Homo sapiens: one gene and its partners. The protein of the gene in region 4 purifies or fractionates together with the protein of the main gene of each other region. This does not show direct contact. Each region holds a gene or a part of one and is shown on either strand. Other genes may lie near its edges.

The links.
Region 1: the proteins of GFPT2 (region 4) and TARS3 fractionate together in Homo sapiens (co-fractionation; one large-scale study listed by BioGRID). This does not show direct contact.
Region 2: the proteins of GFPT2 (region 4) and UTP4 purify together in Homo sapiens (co-immunoprecipitation; one large-scale study listed by IntAct). This does not show direct contact.
Region 3: the proteins of GFPT2 (region 4) and HAVCR2 purify together in Homo sapiens (co-immunoprecipitation; one large-scale study listed by IntAct). This does not show direct contact.
Region 5: the proteins of GFPT2 (region 4) and CCM2 purify together in Homo sapiens (co-immunoprecipitation; one large-scale study listed by IntAct). This does not show direct contact.

What each region holds. Positions count from the first base shown.
Region 1 is NC_000015.10:101,703,956-101,707,475, reverse strand, and holds part of TARS3 (threonine--tRNA ligase 2, cytoplasmic), read left to right. Parts: intron 1-1,728; coding exon 1,729-1,793; intron 1,794-3,520. UniProt on the Homo sapiens protein: Catalyzes the attachment of threonine to tRNA(Thr) in a two-step reaction: threonine is first activated by ATP to form Thr-AMP and then transferred to the acceptor end of tRNA(Thr).
Region 2 is NC_000016.10:69,166,579-69,169,535, reverse strand, and holds the end of UTP4 (U3 small nucleolar RNA-associated protein 4 homolog), read right to left. Parts: intron 2,462-2,957; coding exon 2,351-2,461; intron 716-2,350; coding exon 599-715; 3' UTR 515-598; downstream 1-514. UniProt on the Homo sapiens protein: Ribosome biogenesis factor. Involved in nucleolar processing of pre-18S ribosomal RNA. Part of the small subunit (SSU) processome, first precursor of the small eukaryotic ribosomal subunit.
Region 3 is NC_000005.10:157,085,317-157,088,693, reverse strand, and holds the end of HAVCR2 (hepatitis A virus cellular receptor 2 precursor), read left to right. Parts: intron 1-1,399; coding exon 1,400-1,592; 3' UTR 1,593-2,862; downstream 2,863-3,377. UniProt on the Homo sapiens protein: Cell surface receptor implicated in modulating innate and adaptive immune responses. Generally accepted to have an inhibiting function.
Region 4 is NC_000005.10:180,301,328-180,304,847, reverse strand, and holds part of GFPT2 (glutamine--fructose-6-phosphate aminotransferase [isomerizing] 2), read left to right. Parts: coding exon 1-76; intron 77-2,263; coding exon 2,264-2,425; intron 2,426-3,239; coding exon 3,240-3,284; 3' UTR 3,285-3,520. UniProt on the Homo sapiens protein: Controls the flux of glucose into the hexosamine pathway. Most likely involved in regulating the availability of precursors for N- and O-linked glycosylation of proteins.
Region 5 is NC_000007.14:45,062,682-45,066,201, forward strand, and holds part of CCM2 (cerebral cavernous malformations 2 protein), read left to right. Parts: intron 1-1,236; coding exon 1,237-1,320; intron 1,321-1,781; coding exon 1,782-1,965; intron 1,966-3,520. UniProt on the Homo sapiens protein: Component of the CCM signaling pathway which is a crucial regulator of heart and vessel formation and integrity. May act through the stabilization of endothelial cell junctions. May function as a scaffold protein for MAP2K3-MAP3K3 signaling.

The DNA of each region.
Region 1 (3,520 bases), on a different chromosome or scaffold from region 4:
CACATTTTGTTGATCCATTCATCCACCTGTAAACACTTGGGTTGCTTCTGCCTTTTGGCTACTATTGTGAACAGCGCTGCTGTGAACATGGGTGTGTAAAGTTCTGTTTGAGTCTCTGCTTTACTTCTTTTGGGAATATACTTAGAAGGGGAATTTCTGGATCCTATGGCAATTCTGTTTTTAAGTTTTCGAGAACTCGCCATACCGTTTGGTGCAGTGGCTACACCATTTTACAGTCCCACCAGTGATGCACAGGGGGTTCAGTTTTTCCACATCCTTGCCAACACTTGTTTTGTTTTTTTTTTAATCATGGACATCCTAATGGTTGTGAAGTGGTATCTCATTGGGGTTTTGTTTTGACTTGCATTTCTCTGATGACGTACTAATGGTGAGCATCTTAATGTGCTTATTGGCCATTTGTGTATTTTCTTGAAGAAATGTCTTTGGAGAAATGTCTGTTGAGCTCTTTTGCCCATTTTTTAATTAGGTTTTTTTGTATTTGAGTTATAAGAGTTCTTGATATATTCTGGATATCCATTTCTTAACAGATATGTGATTTGCAAATATTTAATTCTGTGGGTTGCCTTTTTTGCAGCTACTTTTAAGAACTAAACACAATTAATCTTTGTTAAGGAAAATGATTTGTTGTGAATATATAGATACGAAACAGTTAAATCATGCAGATACGGGTTTTTCTCCCAACAACTAGCTTCTTTAAGTAGTTATTTAATATAAAGTGCCTTGTATACCCCGATAGTAGTGATGGAAGCAGAAAAGAAAGGAAAAGGAAAAAAACCCTTAGTTTTATAAATATATCATCATTACGATAAACTTTGCTTTTGTTTTTATACAAATTAATAATATAGCTGTGTCCTTGTCAGAATTTTATTGATTAATGTTAAAATTAGATCTTCTAGAACAGTACTGTCCAATAGAAACATAATGGAATCCACTAGTCTGAGCTACATGTGTAACCTATAATTTTATGGCAGCTACATTTTAAAAGTAAAAGTTGCAATTAATTTTAACAAATTTTTAACCCAATATATAAAAAGTATAATTTCAATGGTAGCCAGTATAAAGAATGATTAACGAATGATTTTCTTCTTCTTTTTGCAACATTATACTTCCAAAGTCCAGTGTGTTTTATACTCACTGCACATCTTCTTTCAAATTAGTGGCATTTGAGGCCAGGTGTGGTGGCTCACACCTGTAATCCCAGTACTTTGGGAGGCCAAGGCAGGCGGATCACTAGAGGTCAGGAGTTTGAGACCAGCCTGGCCAACATAGTGAAACCCTGTCTCTACTAAAAATACAAAAATTAGCACATAGTAAAAATACAAAAATACAATACAGGCATGGTGGTACATGCCTGTAATTCCAGCTACACGGGAGGCTGAGGCAGAATCGCTTGAACCAGGGAGACGGACGTTGCAGTGAGCCAAGATGGTGGCACTGCACCCTAGCCTGGGTGAGGGAGTGAGACTCTGTCTCAAAAACAACAACAACAACCACAAATTAATGGCATTTGAAATGCCCAGTAGCCACGTGGCTTGTGGCCTCCATGCTGCACGGTGTCGCTCAAGGCTGTGAGCTCTTTGTATCCCTCGTGTCTCAGCACCTAGAACATCAGTAGATGACCTTTCAATGTTTCTTGAAGAAAAGTAGAGTTGTTTTCTTCATTTCAACATTGTGTGTAATAATGTGTAAATATGTTTTTCTTCGTAGTACAATAAATTTAAATGCCGCATTCTGAATGAGAAAGTTAACACTGCAACTACCACCGTGTACAGGTTTGTGTCCACACATGGTAAACGCTGCTCAGTGGTAAACTTGAAGGTGTTAGCAGTAGAGGCCGAGTTTGTTTTCTGGTTGGAGATCGATTTTTCAAGTTGTGTAGTTGATAATCTACCGTAGTTACAATCTTCAAAATGTTTTCACTAAAGAGAAATGATTATTTTCCCCTTTTTAGTAATCAGGACAGTACTGAGACCCATATTTTGTTTCCTGGGTGTTAGCTATAACAGGATTTTTCTCCATGTGAGTGATACTGTTGGGAAAGGAGTTTCTATTCTGTCCTTCCACGTTCTTATTAATGTGGCAGTGGGGGCCATTACAAGCCATCTCCTCGGCAGTGATTCTCTGCCTCATACTTACTGTCCAGAGTGCAAGTGTAGAAGAGTCTGCCCCATTGTCCAGAGTCCAAGTGTACAGTCTTCATGCATTAGCAGGATACTCATGATGAGACCAAAAGAAAATACTGGGAAACAAAGGCAGGATCAAATGTAAGAGGAGACAAGTGAAGTTAATACCAGAATCACTTAGCTCTGTTCATTTAACCTCAGGTTCCTGAGCACCTTTTTCTTTATTCGTGTGTATACGCCTTATATGTCATTGCTGTTCCCCTTTCCGTGTGTTCCGGCCATCTGGGTGCTGCTAGGACTATCACAGTACCGCCTTAGAAGACCTGGTATTTATTTAATTATAACCACAGATATTCTCCCTCATGGTACTTACTTTCGACAGTCAAGGACTTATGGTTCTCTGGTTTAATTGTACTGTAAGTAAAATCATATCCCCTTTGTGCAAAGCTATGCACGGTGCATTTCTTAAAGCTTAAAAATAAATGAAAATGTAGAAAACAGGCCAAGTTTTAAATTTCTGGCTTCTAATGCTTGAGCTCTTGGGTTTGAGAACCTTACTTACGTCAACATTGACACTTTTTGTAGTTTTTCAATTTGAATGGCTTGTATTTAATTTTTGAAAAAAAAATAAAGCTTTTCTTTTATGGCTTTCTTTTTTTTTTTTTTTTTAATTTTTTGAGATGGAGTCTTGCACTGTTGCCCGGGCTGGAGTGCGATGGCGCGACCTCGGTTCACCGCAACCTCTGCCTCCCAGGTTCAAGTGATTCTCCTGCCTCAGCCTCCCAAGTAGCTGGGATTACAGGCGCCCACCACCACGCCCAGCTAATTTTTTATATTTTTTATTAGAGACAGGGTTTCACTATGTTGGCGAGGCTGGTCTCGAATGCCTGACCTCGTGATCCACCCGCCTCGGCCTCCCAAAGTGCTGGGATTACAGGTGTGAGCCACCACACCCGGCCCTGTGACTTTCTATGTAAAGATTAGAGTATTGAAGCCTTTCATGCTAATTTGGCATTCCTTCCCTTCATCTGAGTGTTGTTTACAAGCTCTCTCCCTAGAGAACAATACACAAAGACTGACCATTGAGAGAGATGACATTTTCGTGTTTGCCACTCTGTAAGCCAGTCCCTTTTTGTATTCATTGTAATTTTTAAGTTTTTAATCAGAGAATTGCCTAGTTTCTTTCAGAAGATGTTCTGTGGTTTTTGAATCTAGAGGGCAGAGTGGACTCTGAGGCTAGATGAATCACCTCTCTCCTTCACCCTAAATTAAAAATGGCATTGCTACATATAAATAAGTGAAGCTCTACCTAAAACATAGGATATTATGGCTTATAATGAATAGTCCAGAACACTGTAACTGTGCCTGAGCATGTC
Region 2 (2,957 bases), on a different chromosome or scaffold from region 4:
AACAGGTAAAAAGGCAGTTAATGGGACTGATAACCCAAGCTTTTTTTACTTTTAAATAAAATTAACGGCTGACTGTCAAAGGTCAAAGGCATCTATTTTTTAGATGGAGCACTCCCTTATAATGCTGGAGTTGAAATTCTTCCTTGAACTCTAAGGCTGATTATGGTTATTAGTGGTCAGGCTATCCTGGGTAAGTAATTACGGTCCTCTGCCCTCCAGGGCGAGGATGGGCAGATTCCTACGCAGTTCCATGGGCTGGGGGCTGGCAGGAAGTGAAGGCTATCAGCTCTCTGAAGCCTTAGGCATGTAATAGGGAACAGAACACAAATATCTTTTCTTCTGAGATTGCGGCCTACAGAATAAGCAGGACTCAATCAACATTAGATGAGTTTGTAGCTACTGAGCACATTATCCCCAATACAAATACCTCATTTGGAATTTCCATTCATTTTCATTCAATGAAGGGAAATGACTGTCCATTATTTTGGAAGAAAACATTTATAATGACTAGTCCTCAAGAATAACTTGTTTTATTACCATGATTTGTGAAAAGCAACAGGGTAGACAGTTCAAGGAAGGACACAGACAGTGCCCTGTTTTAGGTTCCAAATTTCTTCTTTTTAATGGGTGGTGGGAGCTGAGCAATGATGTCATCCAGAGGCCGTTCTACTGCCACGAGTGTTCTTTCATCCAAAAGATCCATGAAGAGTAGAGGCTGCAGAGGGATGATAATTATTCTATCAGGACTTAGGATCCAGGGCTAGTCCTGAAAGAACTGACTGTAGGTAGACACCATCTAAGCTAAAAGGTTAGCCTAGTTCAAGGCTCAAATGATTTAAATTTCTTGACAATCTTTCCTGCCCTGGGACTCAAAATAGTTGGAATGCATAAAAGCTTTTTTTTTTATTTTTTAGAGATCTTGCTATGTTGCCTAGGCAGGAGAGCAGTGGTCATTCATAGACATGATCAACGTGCACTGAAGCCCTGAACTCCTGGGCAATCATCCTGCCTCAGTCTCCTGAGTAGCTGGGACAATAGGTAGGTGTGCACGGCTGCGCCTGGCTCAAGATTGGGAGCCTTTTTTTTTTTTTTTTTTTTTTTTGAGACAGTCTCGCTCTGCCGCCCAGGCTGGAGTGCAGTGGCGCAATCTCGGCTCACGGCAAGCTCCGCCTCCCGGGTTCACGCCATTCTCCCGCCTCAGCCTCCCGGGTAGCTGGGACTACAGGTGCCCACCACCACGCCCGGCTAATTTTTTGTATTTTTAGTAGAGATGGGGTTTCACCGTGTTAGCCAGGATGGTCTCGATCTCCTGAACTCGTGATCCGCCCACCTTGGCCTCCCAAAGTGCTGGGATTACAGGCGTGAGCCACTGCGCCCGGCCAAGATTGGGAGCTTTTAACTAAGTTCACTCATAAAAGGTCTCAGCAGGATTTTTTTACATTTCTCTGGATAGAAAATCTATGCTTCTTATATCTCAAGAATCAATGTTAAGCAAGGACTTTAAAGCCTAAGTTCTTTTTTTTCTCAGACAGAATCTCGATGTTACCCAGCCTGGAGTGCAGTGGTGCAATCATACTCACCGCAGCCTTGAACTCCTGAGCACAAGCTATCCTCCCATCTCAGCCTCTTGAGCAGCTGGGACTACAGGCATGCTCCACCACACCTAGCTAATTTTTATATTTTTTTTTTTTTTGTAGAGACAGGGTCTCACTATGTTGCCCAGACTGGTCTTGAACTCCAGCCTCAACCTCCTAAAGTACTGAGATTACAGGCGTGAATCACCATACCCAGCCTAAGGCAACTGACAACTGGCAAGCTACAAATGCATCAAGAAGCTAATCACATTTGAGTCATTTGAGTAATCAGTAATTTACAGAACTCTCCTTTTTTTTTTTTTGTTAATAGTGATGGGGTTTCACCATGGTGCCCAGGCTGGTTTTGAATTCCTGGGCTGAGGAGATCCACCTGCCTTGGCCTCCCAAAGTGCTGGGATTACAGGTATGAGCTACCAAGCCCAGCCTGCTTGACATTTATCCTATGGAACACTCCAACAAGTAAAATTTAAAGCCAGCTCTCATGACAACAAAGACTCTACCCTCAGCGCCAACATTTCTCACTACTTACGCATTTCATTTTGGTTAAGTATGATGTGCCTGCCTCTAACCTACTAAGGCAAGAACAATAAAACATATACAAGGGACAGCCAGCCTCAAAAAGGTGACTTGTCTCCCACAAGCCAGGTTCTCTGCATGGAAACTGAAGGTGCTCTTATCTTCCGATTGTGGAGTTTATTACATTTTGGTATCACAAAGGAACCAACTATCCAGAATAACAACACAAGATGTTTTACCTTATATATCTTAGAAATTTTAAAAGCATGAGCTGTGCGCCTCCGGATGACATCTGATTCATTCGTGGGAGGAAATGGATTGTAGAGTAAGGTTTTGTCATTTGGAAGGGGCTAAAAAAACAAAGACACATTGTTTAAATGGTTACTTTTATTGGGCTTCTGCAGACCAAAGATCTGTAGTGCATTTTGAGCCCAACATCATCTTCTAACCATCATATATATTCAGTACCTCCCTGACATTCGTTAATTCGGGAAAACAGCTGTAGCCATAATACCTCTATTCAGAAAAACTAGGGGGGAAAAAAAGAAGAAAAGGAGAGAGAGGGAGAAAGAGCTGAAGCTACTCTTGCAGCCACACTGTAGAGGGTGGGTGTATGAGGCAAAGAGAGCTTGTTAACTCCATGCAGCAAGATCAAAGGGCCCTTCTGCGGCTTCTGGCCTGTCTCATCAGTATCACTTTGTCAGAATGGAACAAACTGGCAAGTGCAGGAGCTCAGCCCACACAGGGTCTGTGCTTTCTAGACTCTCCCCCAACCAGATCACAGACTGGACAAGTGACTGGAGTTCTCCCCAGGCGAAACCTCAACACAAACCACCTGTGCTGATG
Region 3 (3,377 bases), about 23 Mb from region 4:
TTATTCATCTCGATATTAATGGTTTTTCCACTGAACTGAAACATCAACGGATTGAGCTCCTATTATATCCAGGGTCTGGGCTGCACTTAGGCGTTACAGAAGTGAGCAAGAAACCCAGTATCTGTTCTCAGCATTTCTGTAAACAGCCCAGGCATTTTCAACTTTAGTTTCCTATTAGAATCACCCAGGCACTGAAGTGTACTAATGCAGGGCCAACCCCAGAGCAACTGAATCAGAATCTCTGGGGATGAAGCCTAAGCATAGAAATTGTTCTAAAAGCTCTCCAGGTGATTCTAGTGAACAGTCAGGGCTGAGAACTGCTAGTCTGTTATAGACTCCTGTCTTGACCTTCGTTCCTGATTATACACACCCACACATCCATTTCAAATAGGTATGGCTTACATAACTTACTAGATTTTAGACTTTTAGTGATGTTTGGCACATGAATGGAATACAATATATTTGGATTACAAAAATGATTCTGGGCTAGGTGCTGTGGCTTACGCCTATAAGCCCAGCACTTTGGGAGGCTGAGGTGGGAGGATCACATGAGCCCAGGAGTTCAAGACCAGCCTGGGCAACATGATGAGACCTCTTCTCTACAAAAAAATGGAAACATTAGGTGGAAGGATTGCTGGAGCACAGGAGATGAAGGCTGCAATGAGCCATGATTGTGCCACTGCATTCCCACCTGGGTGACAGAGAAAGACCCAGCATCAAACAAAACAAAACAAAAACCTCTGTCCATTGAATGCTATCTAAAGCATTAATAATTTTTTTTTTTTTTTTTTGAGACGGAGTCTGGCTCTGTCACCCAGGCTGGAGTGCAGTGGCACAACCTCGGCTCACTATAACCTCTGCTTCTCGGGTTCAAGCGATTCTCTGCATTAGCCTCCCAAGTAGCTGGGATTACAGGTGCATGCCACCACGCTGGCTAATTTTTTGTATGTTTAGTAGAGACGGGGTTTCACTATGTTGGCCAGGCTGGTCTCGAACTCCTGACCTCGTGATCTGCCAGGCTCAGCCTCCCAAAGTGCTGGGATTACAGGCGTGAGCCACGGCGCCCGGCCCATTTTTTGAAAATCTAAATGTGTACATAATTGCAGACATCTTGATACTTCACCTAAACTTCAGCCTGCACCTCCGAGAAATAAAAATATTCTCTTAGCTATCACAATGCTGTTGTTATACCTAAGAAAATTAAAATTAATGGACATTTTCTCAATTGTTTCCCCATAGTATTTTATTGCTATTTCTTGGCTTTTCCACTTGTTCAGCATCTGATCAAAGATCATGCACTATATTTAGTTGCTGTCTCTTTGGGAAAGCCTATTCTCTTAACTCTATTCCGTGTTACCTGGGAAATGCTTAACTCAACCGCAACACTTTATTTCCACAGCCTCATCTCTTTGGCCAACCTCCCTCCCTCAGGATTGGCAAATGCAGTAGCAGAGGGAATTCGCTCAGAAGAAAACATCTATACCATTGAAGAGAACGTATATGAAGTGGAGGAGCCCAATGAGTATTATTGCTATGTCAGCAGCAGGCAGCAACCCTCACAACCTTTGGGTTGTCGCTTTGCAATGCCATAGATCCAACCACCTTATTTTTGAGCTTGGTGTTTTGTCTTTTTCAGAAACTATGAGCTGTGTCACCTGACTGGTTTTGGAGGTTCTGTCCACTGCTATGGAGCAGAGTTTTCCCATTTTCAGAAGATAATGACTCACATGGGAATTGAACTGGGACCTGCACTGAACTTAAACAGGCATGTCATTGCCTCTGTATTTAAGCCAACAGAGTTACCCAACCCAGAGACTGTTAATCATGGATGTTAGAGCTCAAACGGGCTTTTATATACACTAGGAATTCTTGACGTGGGGTCTCTGGAGCTCCAGGAAATTCGGGCACATCATATGTCCATGAAACTTCAGATAAACTAGGGAAAACTGGGTGCTGAGGTGAAAGCATAACTTTTTTGGCACAGAAAGTCTAAAGGGGCCACTGATTTTCAAAGAGATCTGTGATCCCTTTTTGTTTTTTGTTTTTGAGATGGAGTCTTGCTCTGTTGCCCAGGCTGGAGTGCAATGGCACAATCTCGGCTCACTGCAAGCTCCGCCTCCTGGGTTCAAGCGATTCTCCTGCCTCAGCCTCCTGAGTGGCTGGGATTACAGGCATGCACCACCATGCCCAGCTAATTTGTTGTATTTTTAGTAGAGACAGGGTTTCACCATGTTGGCCAGTGTGGTCTCAAACTCCTGACCTCATGATTTGCCTGCCTCGGCCTCCCAAAGCACTGGGATTACAGGCGTGAGCCACCACATCCAGCCAGTGATCCTTAAAAGATTAAGAGATGACTGGACCAGGTCTACCTTGATCTTGAAGATTCCCTTGGAATGTTGAGATTTAGGCTTATTTGAGCACTGCCTGCCCAACTGTCAGTGCCAGTGCATAGCCCTTCTTTTGTCTCCCTTATGAAGACTGCCCTGCAGGGCTGAGATGTGGCAGGAGCTCCCAGGGAAAAACGAAGTGCATTTGATTGGTGTGTATTGGCCAAGTTTTGCTTGTTGTGTGCTTGAAAGAAAATATCTCTGACCAACTTCTGTATTCGTGGACCAAACTGAAGCTATATTTTTCACAGAAGAAGAAGCAGTGACGGGGACACAAATTCTGTTGCCTGGTGGAAAGAAGGCAAAGGCCTTCAGCAATCTATATTACCAGCGCTGGATCCTTTGACAGAGAGTGGTCCCTAAACTTAAATTTCAAGACGGTATAGGCTTGATCTGTCTTGCTTATTGTTGCCCCCTGCGCCTAGCACAATTCTGACACACAATTGGAACTTACTAAAAATTTTTTTTTACTGTTTTTTGTTTGTTTGTTTGTTTTTTGAGATAGAATCTCGCTCTGTCTGAGTTCATTGTAGATTCTGGATATTAGCCCTTTGTCAGATGAGTAGGTTGCGAAAATTTTCTCCCATTTTATAGGTTGCCTGTTCACTCTGATGGTAGTTTCTTTTGCTGTGCAGAAGCTCTTTAGTTTAATTAGATCCCATTTGTCAATTTTGGCTTTTGTGGCCATTGCTTTTGGTGTTTTAGACATGAAGTCCTTGCCCATGCCTATGTCCTGAATGGTAATGTCTAGGTTTTCTTCTAGGGTTTTTAGGGTTTTAGGTCTAACGTTTAAGTCTTTAATCCATCTTGAATTAATTTTTGTATAAGGTGTAAGGAAGGGATCCAGTTTCAGCTTTCTACATATGGCTAGCCAGTTTTCCCAGCACCATTTATTAAATAGGGAATCCTTTCCCCATTGCTTGTTTTTCTCAGGTTTGTCAAAGATCAGATAGTTGTAGATATGCGGCATTATTTCTGAGGGCTCTGTTC
Region 4 (3,520 bases):
CGTCATCATGGTCATTATGAAGGATCCTTGCTTCGCCAAATGCCAGAACGCCCTGCAGCAAGTCACGGCCCGCCAGGTGAGGGCTCTCCACTGGACTGGGCCAGCTCTCTCCTGCTTTTCCCCATGCATGCCCACCTCACCACTGTCTGCCAGTACCAGTGATGGATGGTCTGGCCAGTGAGTGGCTGTGACCACACACCCTCCCCCGGGCCGCCTGTGGGGAGTGCACACACTTGGAAAGGAGCTGGTCAGCCCGCAGCTGTCCCACACAGCTCTTTGGTGGGGCCCAGGGACCCACACTGCTGTGAGCAGCACCAGATCCTAGCCTGGAGCTCAGGGGAGGTACTCCTGGTGGACATCCCTGGGGCAGGGTTTCCCCAGGTTCTGCGGCCAAGCAGCTCCGATGGGAACTACCTGGAGTTAGGTCAGGTCTCATAGGGCAGGGGCACAGCTTTCCATAAGACTGCCCTCGATTCAGGCACCTGTTGCAAGCCAGGGGTCCACCCACACATCTGAGCAACTGACTATGAATCCAAGGATTCCCACTCTCCCCTGAAGTTCAGTAATTTTCTAGAACGACCCATAGAACTCAGGAGATGACTATATGATTACAGTTTTATTATAAAAGATATAAATCACAGCCAACCCAAAAGAAGAGACCCCTAGTTTGAGGGCCCCAGATGTGAAGCTTGTGTCCTCAGGATGTGTCACCCTCCCAGCACGTCACTGTGTGTCGCCCGGGAGCTCCCCTGAGCTGCTAGCTCCAGTGTCCAGAGTTTGTATTGTGGTTTTATTAAGTAGGCAGGATGGAGTGAACCATTGGCCATGTGATCAAACTCAGTCGCCAGCCCCACTTTTGTCCTTGGAGGTTGGGAGGTCAGACTGACAGGCTCATGTCTCAAAGCCCCAACCTTCTAATCATGTGGCTGGCCTTTCTAGCAGGGCCAGACGCCATCCTGGAACTATCTACAGGCCCACCACGAGTCGTCACCTTAGCATAAAGTTAGGTATAGTCCAAGGGACCTCCCATAAATAACAAAGATGCTTTTGTCACATGGGAAAGTCCAGAAGCCAGGAGCTCCCTTCCTGGAACCGGCCACAAAGACCAACCAAATGCTTTGTACACAGCAGCTGCCCTGAGGTAGGAGGGCAGAGTTCATGAAGTTTCGGGGAGGTGAAATCCAATGAGGTGCCCCATCCAGATGTTGCCACCTGGCTCAGCACAGAGGTCAGAGTGAGGGTATAAAACACAATGGCATCATTTCCCCACTTAAAACCCTCCCATACCTGCCTGTCAAGCCACAGAGACCCACAGTCCTGCGTTATCTGGCCCTTTCCTCCTGTTTCAGTGAGTTCCAGGCACTCCAGCTTTCCTTCTGCGTCCCACTCTCATTGCGCCCGCGCCCGCCTCCGGGCCTTTGCGCTGGCCGCTCCTGCTGTCTGGAATGCCCTTCCCACAGAATGCTCCGCCGAGGGTTGTCCCCTCATCATTTAGGGTTCAGTCCAGATGTCTCCTGTTTTTGAGAGAGCTTTGGAGACCTCACCAGTCTCCCAATGACATTATCCTGTTTTCTAGCCTTGGTGGCATTTCTTTGGAATTCATTTTTTTTTTTTTTTTGTGACGGAGTCTGGCTCTGTCGCCCAGGCTGGAGTGCAGTGGCGCCATCTCGGCTCACTGCAAGCTCCGCCTCCCAGGTTCACGCCATTCTCCTGCCTCAGCCTCCCCAGTAGCTGGGACTACAGGCCCCCGCCACCACACCCGGCTAATTTTTTGTATTTTTTAGTAGAGACAGGGTTTCACCATGTTAGCCAGGATGGTCTCGATCTCCTGACCTCGTGATCCACCCGCCTCAGCCTCCCAAAGTGTTGGGATTACAGGCGTGAGCCACCACGCCCGGCCTGGAATTCATCTTTATTTCTTGGTTTGCTTGTCTAGGTTTTTGTTTTCTACCACTAGACTATGAGCCCCGCTAGAGTTAGGAGTGAGTCTGCCCCGCTCTCGGCAAGGCACAAATGGGTGCCAAATGATGCAGCAGGATGGCAATCTCCTTACCAGGGAAGGGGAAGAAACCCCCAAAAAGCATCAGACACTTTATCCTTTCCAAGCATTTGTGTCCCACACATACCACCTCACCCATGACTCCAGCAAATGCAAAAGAGGACTGTTCTCATCACAGTAATGTAGCTTCCAGATACTCTGTATGCATCAGGGATAGCTTCTTTCAGAGAGGGTCTATTTTATGATGCTATTTCTCTGCTCTAGGGTCGCCCCATTATACTGTGCTCCAAGGACGATACTGAAAGTTCCAAGTTTGCGTATAAGACAATTGAGCTGCCCCACACTGTGGACTGCCTCCAGGGCATCCTGAGCGTGATTCCGCTGCAGCTGCTGTCCTTCCACCTGGCTGTTCTCCGAGGATATGACGTGCGTCTAAAAACTGCACCTAACAGCAGAGAGGAGAGACATAACCCCAGAGTTCCTTTCTGTTCTTTAAATACTTGGAGTAAATAGTCATAGAGTAAATAATTTTATTTAAAGTAGCTTTCTTTTTTTTTTTTTTGAGATTGAGTCTCGCTCTGTCGCCCAGGCTGGAGGGCAGTGGCACAACCTCGGCTCACTGCAAGCTCCACCTCCTGGGTTCAAGCGATTCTCCTGCCTCAGCCTCCCGAGTAGCTGGGACTACAAGCACCCGCCACCATGCCTGGCTAATTTTTTGTATTTTTTGTAGAGACGGGGTTTCACCGTGTTAGCCAGGATGACCTTGATCTGACCTCGTGATCCACCTGCCTCAGCCTCCCAAAGTGCTGGGATTACAGGTGTGAGCCACCGCACCCGGCCCAGTAGAAGCGTACTTATGAACCATTCCTACCTTTCCTTCCCACTCCACCCTAAACAAATAAGTCCCATGGAATTCATATATATTCTTGCAAGAAAAGTTAATTTTTAACAGTACACACCAAGTTACCTGTGTTTAAAAGCATGAACCTTATTCTTTAAATCATGTTAACAGATCATGACACACATCAGGTGCACAGTAAATGTTTATTGAGGGACTAAACCTTATACGGTTAAATGAGGCTTCTGGACTAAGGAATCTGCCTCCAAGACGCAGGTCTCTAGGTTGGTGACCATGGTGAACATCTGTCTCTTGTTTTTAAGTACTCTGAAAATTGTCTGTGAGAGGTAGCATGTTGCTGAGATCTTTGGGGTCCTGAACAGTCACTTTCTTTCATTTTAGGTTGACTTCCCCAGAAATCTGGCCAAGTCTGTAACTGTGGAATGAGGCTGAGACCGTGACAAGACCATCACCACCTTTCATCTGATTCCAGACCTGTCCCAACAGCAGGGATGCTACATGGGAAGAGAAGTGGACATCCCACATGTTCTGCGTGCTCCTGTAGAGCTTGACAGCTTCCACGTGCCTTCTACCCAAGTGCTTTTGCTTACAGCAGATACTGTTTCTCTGTGTCCTGAAGTCGCCAGAGGAGAAGGGAATCATTGTTTACACATGGGGATCAG
Region 5 (3,520 bases), on a different chromosome or scaffold from region 4:
CAGGCGTGGTGACACACACCTGTAGTACCAGCTACTCAGGAGGCTAAGGTGGGACAATTGCTTTGAGCCTGGGAGGCAGAGGTTGCAGTGAGCCAAGATCACGCCTCTGCACCCCAGCCTGTGTGATAGAGTGAGACCCTGTCTCAAAAAAAAAAAAAAAATCGTATCGTTCTGGAGGCTAGGAGGTTTAAGGTTGAAGGGCACAGCTGGTGAGGGGCTGCATCTGCATCTTATGTTATCCCAGGGCGAAAGGTGGAAGGGCAGGAGAGGGAAGGGGGTCAAATTCATCCTTTCATCAGGAACCTGCTCCTGAGATAACAAACCCTCTCCCAGGATAACAGCATTAATGTGCTCACAAGGGCAGAGCTCTCGTGGCCTAATCAGCTCTTTTCTTTCTTTTTTTTTTTTGAGATGGAGTTTTGCTCTTGTTGCCCAGGCTGGAGTATAATGGCGCAGTCTTGGCTCACCACAACCTCCGCCTCCCGGGTTCAAGCAATTATCCTGCCTCAGCCTCCTGAGTAGCTGAGATTACAGGCATGCACCACCACGTCCAGCTAATTTTGTATTTTTAGTAGAGACGGGGTTTCTCCATGTTGGTCAGGCTGGTTTCGAACTCCCAACCTCAGGTGATCTGCCCACCTTAGCCTCCCAAAGTGCTGGGATTACAGGCGTGAGCCACCGCACCTGGCCTAATCACCTCTTAAAGGCCCCACCCTTAACACTGTTGCATGTGGGGACTAAGTTTCCAGCACATGCTTTTTGGGGGACACATTGAAACCATAGCACTTCATTTCTCTATTTATGCTCATTTCTCAGCTATGTTGACCTTTGCAATTGAGGAAGTTTATTTTTTAGTGAAGTTGTGCATGATGCCATTGTTTTCAGTTTCCCCAGCAGTGACGAGAAAACCCTGACCATCCCTGTTTTAGAATACAGATTCTACCAAAACTAGTAGTTTTGGTACTAGTAGTTTGGGATACTCATTGCAGGACTTTTGATGATGACCTTCACTGTAGAATAGTAGGAGATGGGGCAGCACTGTCCTCAGCCAGTAGAGATTTCTGTAAGAACCCAGGACTCTCTTCCTAGAGTTGGGCCTCCACGCGAGCCGGAATGGAGACCCATGGGCCTGGTGGCCTGAGTATGAAGCACTTGGTTTGTGCTCTCGGTGGTAGTGATGGTGGTGTTGGCTCAGCTCCCATTTCTCATGGCATTTTTTTCTTCACTTTCTTTCAGTATTTAGGTCAGTTAACGTCCATACCAGGATACCTGAATCCCTCCAGTAGGACTGAAATCCTGCATTTCATAGACAATGCAAAGGTAACCCTATCCTCTTAACCCTGTGCACTAGCCCTCAGCCCCCACCAGCCCTTGGTCCCTGTACTCTTGGCCTCGTGGCTGTGAGGAATGAGCCAGTCCCATCACATTATGGGTACACTTGGCTCTTGGCCATAAAGACTATTCCTTAGTATGGACATTAAGTTGATTCTCGACACTTGCTCCATGTGATTTTGGGCTGTTTCCAAAATTTACACTTTCAAGATATTTCAAACCATGTGCCGTAAGTCTGAATCTGAAGGCAGTTCCAGAAGAATCTCCCAAATGGTTTGAACACATTGGTGTCCCTGGAATAAGCACTGTTCTGAGGGGAATAACACTGACCTTATTCACTCAGCATTTGTCACATGTGTGACATCGGCCAGCACAATATTCTCAGGAGAAGCGCCCCATGCCGGTTGACAGCTGAGTCTGTATTTCTGATGCCCTGTGGTTCCTTCCAGAGAGCCCACCAGCTTCCGGGACACTTGACTCAGGAGCACGATGCTGTGCTCAGCCTGTCTGCGTACAACGTCAAGCTGGCCTGGAGGGACGGGGAGGATATCATCCTCAGGGTGCCCATCCATGACATCGCCGCCGTCTCCTATGTTCGGGATGACGCTGCACACCTGGTGGTCCTGAAGACAGGTACAGGAGGTCAGGGGTCAGGAGGGTCCTTGTCCTAAGGAGTACATGTGTGAATTTTATGAAGTTCTGGAGACAGTTTTTGCAGCTTCGTGTTGGGTGCTGCTGTTTGTCACGACCAATAATTGTCTTTCCTGTCTCTGAGATCAGCCAGAAGAGGGCTTGAGATCAGTTACCAGACACTGGGGGTGACTGTCACACTAAGAGCCTTTGGGGACTCAATAATACTGGGATACAGTATTTAGGACTGGTATCCTGTTCCTCTGCCCGGTGGGGCTCCTATTGACTCCCTCTGGGTACAGTGGAGTTGCCCCTCTGCCCAGGTGTGGTGGAGCCTAGAGAGAGTGCAGTGGATAGGGACCTCACCTCAGCTTGACTGATATTTTGAGCTCTGCACAGTGTCCTCAAACCTGGGACAGAAAAGATGAGACCCAGACCTCCCAGGAGCTCTTGGTCATAGAGGTTACTCTCTGTGTGTCCTTGCCGTCTGCTGCTTTCACAATGGGATAGAATTGGGCAGAATTGGGCAGAATTGGGCAGAATGTTATTTTTGGCTGTGGTGAGTACAGTGCTGCCTCACTGGACCCAAGCCCAAGCTGCCCGTTAATTTCCAGCAGCTTCCAGCCCAGGCATTCAGGCCACTGAGGATGAGGGGAGAGACCATGGTTCGCCCTACCTGTATTTTGCCCCTCCCAGTCCTGAGTTTCGAGGCTGGTGTTGCAGTGGGGACAGTATCCTGGGCTCCTTGGATCTCTGCTGGTGACTGGGTTGATCCCAAAGCCTTTCATTTCCAGAGGGCCAGTGGCAGGGTGTGAAGGGGTCACAGTGGGTCTGCCTAGACCACACACTGTGTTTTAGGTAGCAGAGAGGGGAATTTGTTGTTCCACTTAAGGTCAGTAGTTCATTGAGAATCTGGCGAGTGTGTTCATTATTGACCCCTTGAGCCATGAAGCTGCCAGCTTGAGTGCGCTCTTGAGAGCAGTCCACTGAAAGCCTGTGAGTCTAGATGCTTGGGGTTGCTGTGGTCATAAACTACACAGGGAACACTGGCGGGGTTTATGAAGGTGGCTGTTGCTCTGTTTTGTTCTCTGTGTAGCAGTAGCTTAGACTTGCGTACACCCTCCCCAACGCAGGCACACACCACACCTACACACATGTACATTACTCACCCTATCTGGCTTAGAAGGCTGGGTTGGTGGCTCCTTCCAGCCATACTATCCGACACCATGGTGACCCTCCTGTTTTTCTACCTTTGGACCCTGCGGGAGGCCTTAGGCCTGGGACATCCTTAGGGACAAGGAGTGAGGAGACTGGTTTCTGACTCGCTTCTTGCAGGTGTTTCAAGCTGGTAGGGAGGGGAGATAGGCTCCTCCCTTTATTTCTTCTGCTGCATGACAGTTTCTCAGCTTTAATTATTAGAACACATTGCTAAAGGAAATGGATGACAGATTTTTTTTAATGGAGAGAGAATGAGCGCCATAGGAGAAACTTTCCAAAATTAGATGAAAAACAGGACTTCTGGTCTTTGAGAGAACTTTTGATTTAAAGGAAGAGAGTG